Linked DNA regions of Homo sapiens: region 1 is linked to region 2. Evidence: fine-mapped expression QTL. A gene starts in region 2. The other region holds a variant in brackets. All regions are shown on one strand. Distances are from middle to middle.

Region 1 (2,913 bases), 35 kb after region 2:
GAGGAATAGAGTTGAATTAATTAGAATTTTTCATTGGGAATTAGTATTTAACTTGATTCCATAAAATTCATTAAAAATCTTTAAGAGTTAAAACACTGAAGTGTTTCACATACAGTGCCTATTTCTGTTGTGCTGAAAATAATAACAGGTAAAGTGACTTTTTTAAACTAAAAATTAATGTTATAATAATATTCGTGGATTATATTATCTAAGTTGTAAAGAGTAATAGCTATTTTCTCCATTTTTCAGTGCTAGTTAAAGGAATGATCTTGGTCTCTCAGCTTGTACCTGACAGGTAGTTGATATGTTTGCTATGTTGACACCCCTTGAGACAGCCTTGGCCAAGCCCTTGTTGGATTAACAGTAGGGACCCCCATGGCCCACTGTCCCACATCAGCCACATCTCTTCATCACATCCATATCTGTGTTCCCATACTGTTACATAAAATTACAGTGTCACAAATCACTTCCAAAATGGAGAAAAGCACTAATGGTTCATGAATCTTTAGATGAACCTAAATATAAAATGAACTGGAAGTATCACTGTTTCTTTTCTTTCTATTGCTTTTTCCCCTTTTTTTATTTAAAAGTCTCTACACCTCAGATCTTGTTTGGTTTTCCTCCTTCGTAATTTTTACATCATTCTTTTCTCTCATTTATTTCTTTGTCTTAGCATAGCACGTTCTGCTACTGGTATCCACCCACATTCATTTCCCCTCTCAGAACTACTCCTGTCAGGGACTTTCCCAGCCAATGTCTTGTCACGGGAAATTTTGGAGCTGTATTGCAGAATGAAGTGTTGGAAAACCTTGTCTTTAGGTGACATTTAATGGTGTGGTTGTATGTAGGTTAGCCTAGTACCTTATGGATTAATATGTACAAAATAATTATTAATTATTGAGCACCTGGCTTTTTAGAATCACAAGTTAAAAGACAGCACTTGGAAATAAATCGTACGTCGTAGTAACGACGCTTCAGGGCTGTTGCTTTTTCCCTTTCTCTACTCCATGTTTGTTTTTCGTCTTAGAAGCTGTATGGAAATTCTGACCAAACCCCTTTCCAATCATGAGAAAGTTGTCCGACCAGCCCTCATCTACAGTCTCTTTCCCAACGTTCCCCCTACCATCTATTTTGGCACTCGGGATGAGAGAGGTAAACCTGGCCAAGTGTCAAAGCCCAGAAGAGCCCCCGGGGAGAAGGTTGCTAGCTAAGTTGGGAGGAGGTGGCAGTAGGTAGGAGAGGGTTTCCAGAATGGCTGTTGTGGCAGTTGTCACACTGTGCTCAGTTCCCCATGTGGTCGTAGGTCTGATGCA[A/C]CCTTTTTCTTGTCTGTCCTTTAGCTGACCCTTTTCAGCCTTGCCATGTCATGCTGAGTTCATGCTCTTCAACCTTGTTGCTTTTCCCTTTCAGTCTTCCCTTTCTTTGTTCCTCATTCCTGCACAGCCCCTCTTCTTTCCCAAAGTGTGCTCCTCTGAAACCCTGATCTGGAGCAATAGTTAGTGACTTGCCTGCCCAGGGAAGAATGGGCAGCCATGCCATCTTTTTTGTCTTCTCATCATGACTCTCTGCTCCTCTCCATCCCCCATCCCCACACCCCTTGCATTCTTCCCAGTGGAGAAACTTCCCTGGGAACAGAGGAAGTTGCTCCGATGGAAGATGAGCACAGTGACCCCCAACATTGTCAAGCAGACCATTGGACGGTCCCACTTCAAAATCAGCAAAAGTGAGTTGCTTGCCTTACTGTGAGCCTGTCCTTTTGCCCCAAATAGATGGGCTTTGCATAGGGGGAGAGCTCTAGACACCTCGTGCCTATGTCGGGGCAGCTGGGGCCCTCTCCTGAAATCCAACCTCATAGGAGGGTGTAGCTCTGAAATCCTGGACTGAGCCTGTTGTTCAGAATTGAGAGACAGAGGGCCATTGTTCTGTCCCTGGCCCCAGGGCCTCATGTAGGACAGCTCCATAGCAACTCTTTGAAAACCAAGTCTGGGAGCTCTGCCCAGTTCTGGGGCCTCTGGGCCTCTCTCTGTCCCTGGACTGAGCTGTTAGCAAGGCTGATTCCTGATGTACCTCCCATAGGAAACGATGACTGGCTGGGCTGCTGGGGTCACCACATGAAGTCTCCTAGTTTCCGATCCATTCGAGAGCATCAGAAGGTAGGGGTCCTTTCTGAGGAGCTGTTTCCCTGGACTTTGGACTAGGCCAAGAGGAGGGGGATGATGTGAGTAGGGGGTAGGGGGCGGGAAGAGGATGATGACCATGGAGAAGTCAGGAAGGTGTACAGAGGAGAAAGTACAGGACGGGGGTACAGTGAGAGACTCCAGTGGATCACGTACATCTCCAGTTCAGCTGCAGTATCTTGGAGTTTCTTGCCTATGTAGGGGGCAGCTGAGTCCCTCTCCTGAACTCCAACCTCATAGGAGGGTGTAACTCTGAAATCCTGCAGTTGCAGCTTCTCCAAGATGCTTTTTCCTCTAATGTGTCTTGAGTTAGATTGTCTGTTTTCTGTTTATTATGTTTCCCTATGATCACTGCACATTCCATTCTCCCAAGCTGAATATGTGTAAAGAGGACTTCTGGTCTCACATTGGAATGAATGAGTCCCTTGCCTCCAGACTTACTAAAGGCGAAATGCTTTTCTGTCCTCATCCCATAGGGTTTCATGGATAAAGATGTAATAGCTTTTTCTTTGCACTTAAGGTGAATATCACATCTGGCTTACATTACTCTGTTTTGTCTGTGTTTTAATCATCTTTTGGTGAGTGCTCTGCAGTTGGATACTTGAGGACCATTAGGGTGGTGATAGTAAGATGGAACAAAAGCTTGGAGTGCTGCTAAAGAAGTTGGAATGGTAGAATGAGTCTTGTCATCTTCCTCATGGCCTCACCTCTGCCCTCTTCCTGCACTCACCCTTTTCCC
Region 2 (2,913 bases):
TATACCCTAAAATTGTTGAAGGAAGAAGAGGTCATTTATTCTGTACATTGGCTCACATTCTGGATTTGTTTGATTGCTTTCTTGTAGTGTTATACAGTTGTTTCTCTTTATTTCTTGTTAACTGGAAATTACAGCCAAAACTTGATTAGAGTCACTCAACTTTTTTTTTTACAAAAATACGCTATACTTCATAAATATTTCTGTTCAATTGCATCACATCAAGAAACAATGCTCAGCTGTCCCATGTTTCGTGATCTAAGATTGATTAGTACATGTAGGTTATCTTCAGTGTACATCCTTCAGTGTAAAATTCTCCCATAAATTATCTAATACTTTTAGCATCCATCAACGACTGTTGACTAAATAAGTTATTTATTGAGATCCTTCCTCTGGTCCAGACTGTTTTCATCAGATTAGTTTTATCTTTGTCCCCTTTATTTCTGTAGCCAATTGCCTAGGAAAGATCCTTTCATCTTCCAGCTTTCTTAGATCTCCAAATCTCTCAGGTCTACGGACATCTGAGGCAGGAGCGCGATCTGGCTTGCCTGGGGAGCTAACGAGATAAGGAATTGAGTCAGTATTTCCTAACGTTCACACTTGAAGCCCATAAAGCAGGCAGGTGGTTTTAATTTTGCCCCGCTGGGTGGGTTGGGGTTAGGGAAGGATGGGTTAGAGGGAGGCAGAGTGAATCGGGCAATCTCCCCTTTCCTGCGGTCAAACTCAAAGGCTTTTTCTAGAAATCCTTCAACTGAGCCTGGGCCCTTTGATTTTCAATTGAGGCAAGGCCAAAGAGTCCAGGCCAGGCGTGGGGGCTCCCGTTGTAATCCCAGCGACCAGGAGGCTGATGCAGGAGGATCACTTGAGGCCAAGAGTTTAAGACCAGTCTGGGTAACATAGTGAGACCCTGTCCTGAGAAAAAAAATTTAAAAATAGCCCAGCATGGTGGCGTGCCTGTAGTCCCAGCTACTCGGAAGGCTGGGGGCGGGCGGATCGCTTGAGCAGGAGTTCAAGTTCGCAGTGAGCTATGATCACGTCGCTGCACTCCAGCCTGGGCGACAGAGCGAGATTCTGTCTCTAAAAAAGAAAACAGTCCATAGGGAGTAGGTGGAATTAGAGTAGAAAGAGAGAGTCCTGGATGCTCCGAATGGAGCCTTTCAGAGCTTTAACCACGGGACTACATCTCCCAGAATTCCGCTCGCCGGATCCCACCGCACTGAAGGGACTGCGCGTGCGCGAGTCAGGTGACGACCCGCCCCTACAGGCCCCAGAACCCCCGAGATTCCCCGCGCTTGCCTCCCGCCCTCTTCTTCCAGACTCTCGGTCTGTCCGCTGGGGGCGCGCGCGGTGTGTGGCAGGCGGCAGCGGCGCTGGCGGCCGAGTGCGCTTGTCACGCGTGGCGGTGCGTGGTTGCTAGGGGCGCCTGAGGCTGCCGGGTAGCCCAGCAGGCCGAGGGAGGAAGTAGCGTGGAGCCGGTGCCGAGCCGGGGCGAAGCTGGATCCCCTAGGTGAGTGCGGCTGCGGAGCCAGGGGAGCCGACCCCAGACACTCCGCCGGTCCCACGCTCCCGACCTCCCTCTACCTGAGTCCTTTCGCGCGGGTCCCCAGCCCTCCGGCCACTCTCACCCTAGCCCCGCTTCCTCCCGCCACCTCTCATCCCCCGGGAGGCCAGGGAGCCGCGGCCTCCTACCCGGCCGGGACTTCGCGCCTCCTCGGAGCCCTTCTCCTCTCCGCCACGCCCCGCGAACTTAGTCGGCCTCGCCTCCGGGTGCCCGAACACTGCCTCATCCCCTAGTTATGGCCTCCGAGCTTCCTCTGTCCTGCCGCGCTGAGGTTTAAATTCCCTCTGGGTGTGAGCCCAAGCTCCTCGCAGGCTCCAGGGCCGAATTTAACATGGATATCTGCTTTTTCACTTCTCCATCCTCAGTATCTGTAGAAGAATACGTTCCTAAACTCCACAGATTCAAACAGGATCTGAGATCCTGTGGAATTTAATTCTTCATTCATCAATTCCTTTATTTAATCATTCACTAAACAATTTTTAGTAAACATTGACAAATATTTAATGAGCCTGGGTACAATGGGAGGGATTGAGGGGATAGAGTGGCTAATAGGACAAGCATGTTTTCACGGAATTTACAGTCTAGGAGATTATTAATCAAGTAAACGAGCATTTGCCATACTGTGGTGTGTGCTGTGATAGAACAGGAAATACTTAATCCGGACTTACTTAGAAAACGACATTATTGCCATTCCTCCTGGTCTTCACATTCCCATTCTGGATCTCGGAAATATTTTAATCCTTCCTTGATGAAATCTTCTTTGCTTTCTCAGATACTACAAATCACCTATTCTTTAACTGCAGCACCTGTTGATTTAGCATTTGGGGGACCCTTTGGGACAGTGTTCCATCCCATCCTTCTGTTTCTTGCACTGAATACTGAGACACTGTTTGCATTTAAACCACCCACTTTGTGCTCAGAAAGTTAGCAGCTACTTATATTGGACTGAATCAATCCTTGAAAAATTATCAAGTGTTTTCTGCGAATAGAGAGGTGGGAGGACATTCCAGATACACAGTGGCTTTAGGAAAGGGACAGCAAGTCCTGAAAAGAGAACTGGAAACAGTTTGACAGACCTGGGCTAGATTTGGAGGGAGCCATCCAGTAACAAATAGAAAGAGTGAAGTTAATAGGGGTTAGATCACAAAGGGCCTTGGATGTTTTGCTGAGTTAGAACTATATCCCTGGAGCAGTGGTTTTCAAGCTGGAGTAATCAGGGTTGTAGACTTCCAAGGGATACACTTGCACGTCTAGCTTAACATGAATACATTTCCAGATCCTCAGCTTCCCAGTGAACTTTTTTTTTTTTTTTTGAGACAGAGTCTTGCTCCGTCACCCAGGCTGGAGTGCAATGG

What was found.
Region 1: its variant is fine-mapped to the expression of TTLL4 in whole blood (TOPMed, PIP above 0.99).

What each region holds. Positions count from the first base shown.
Region 1 is chr2:218,744,082-218,746,994 of GRCh38, forward strand. It overlaps TTLL4 (tubulin tyrosine ligase like 4), which reads left to right. Exons shown (of 20, transcript NM_014640.5): 6 at 1,028-1,152; 7 at 1,610-1,720; 8 at 2,074-2,150. Among named protein-coding and RNA genes, the nearest start is that of TTLL4, 35 kb to the left of the region's middle. RefSeq lists an enhancer at 734-1,933. The variant A/C (reference allele first, on the strand shown) is at 1,314.
Region 2 is chr2:218,709,534-218,712,446 of GRCh38, forward strand. TTLL4 (tubulin tyrosine ligase like 4) reads left to right here and starts at 1,302. Exons shown (of 20, transcript NM_014640.5): 1 at 1,302-1,504. LOC124907983 (a long non-coding RNA gene) reads right to left here and starts at 1,951. Exons shown (of 2, transcript XR_007088089.1): 1 at 1,687-1,951; 2 at 69-553. RefSeq lists an enhancer at 1,104-1,203 and silencers at 1,584-1,633, 1,644-1,693.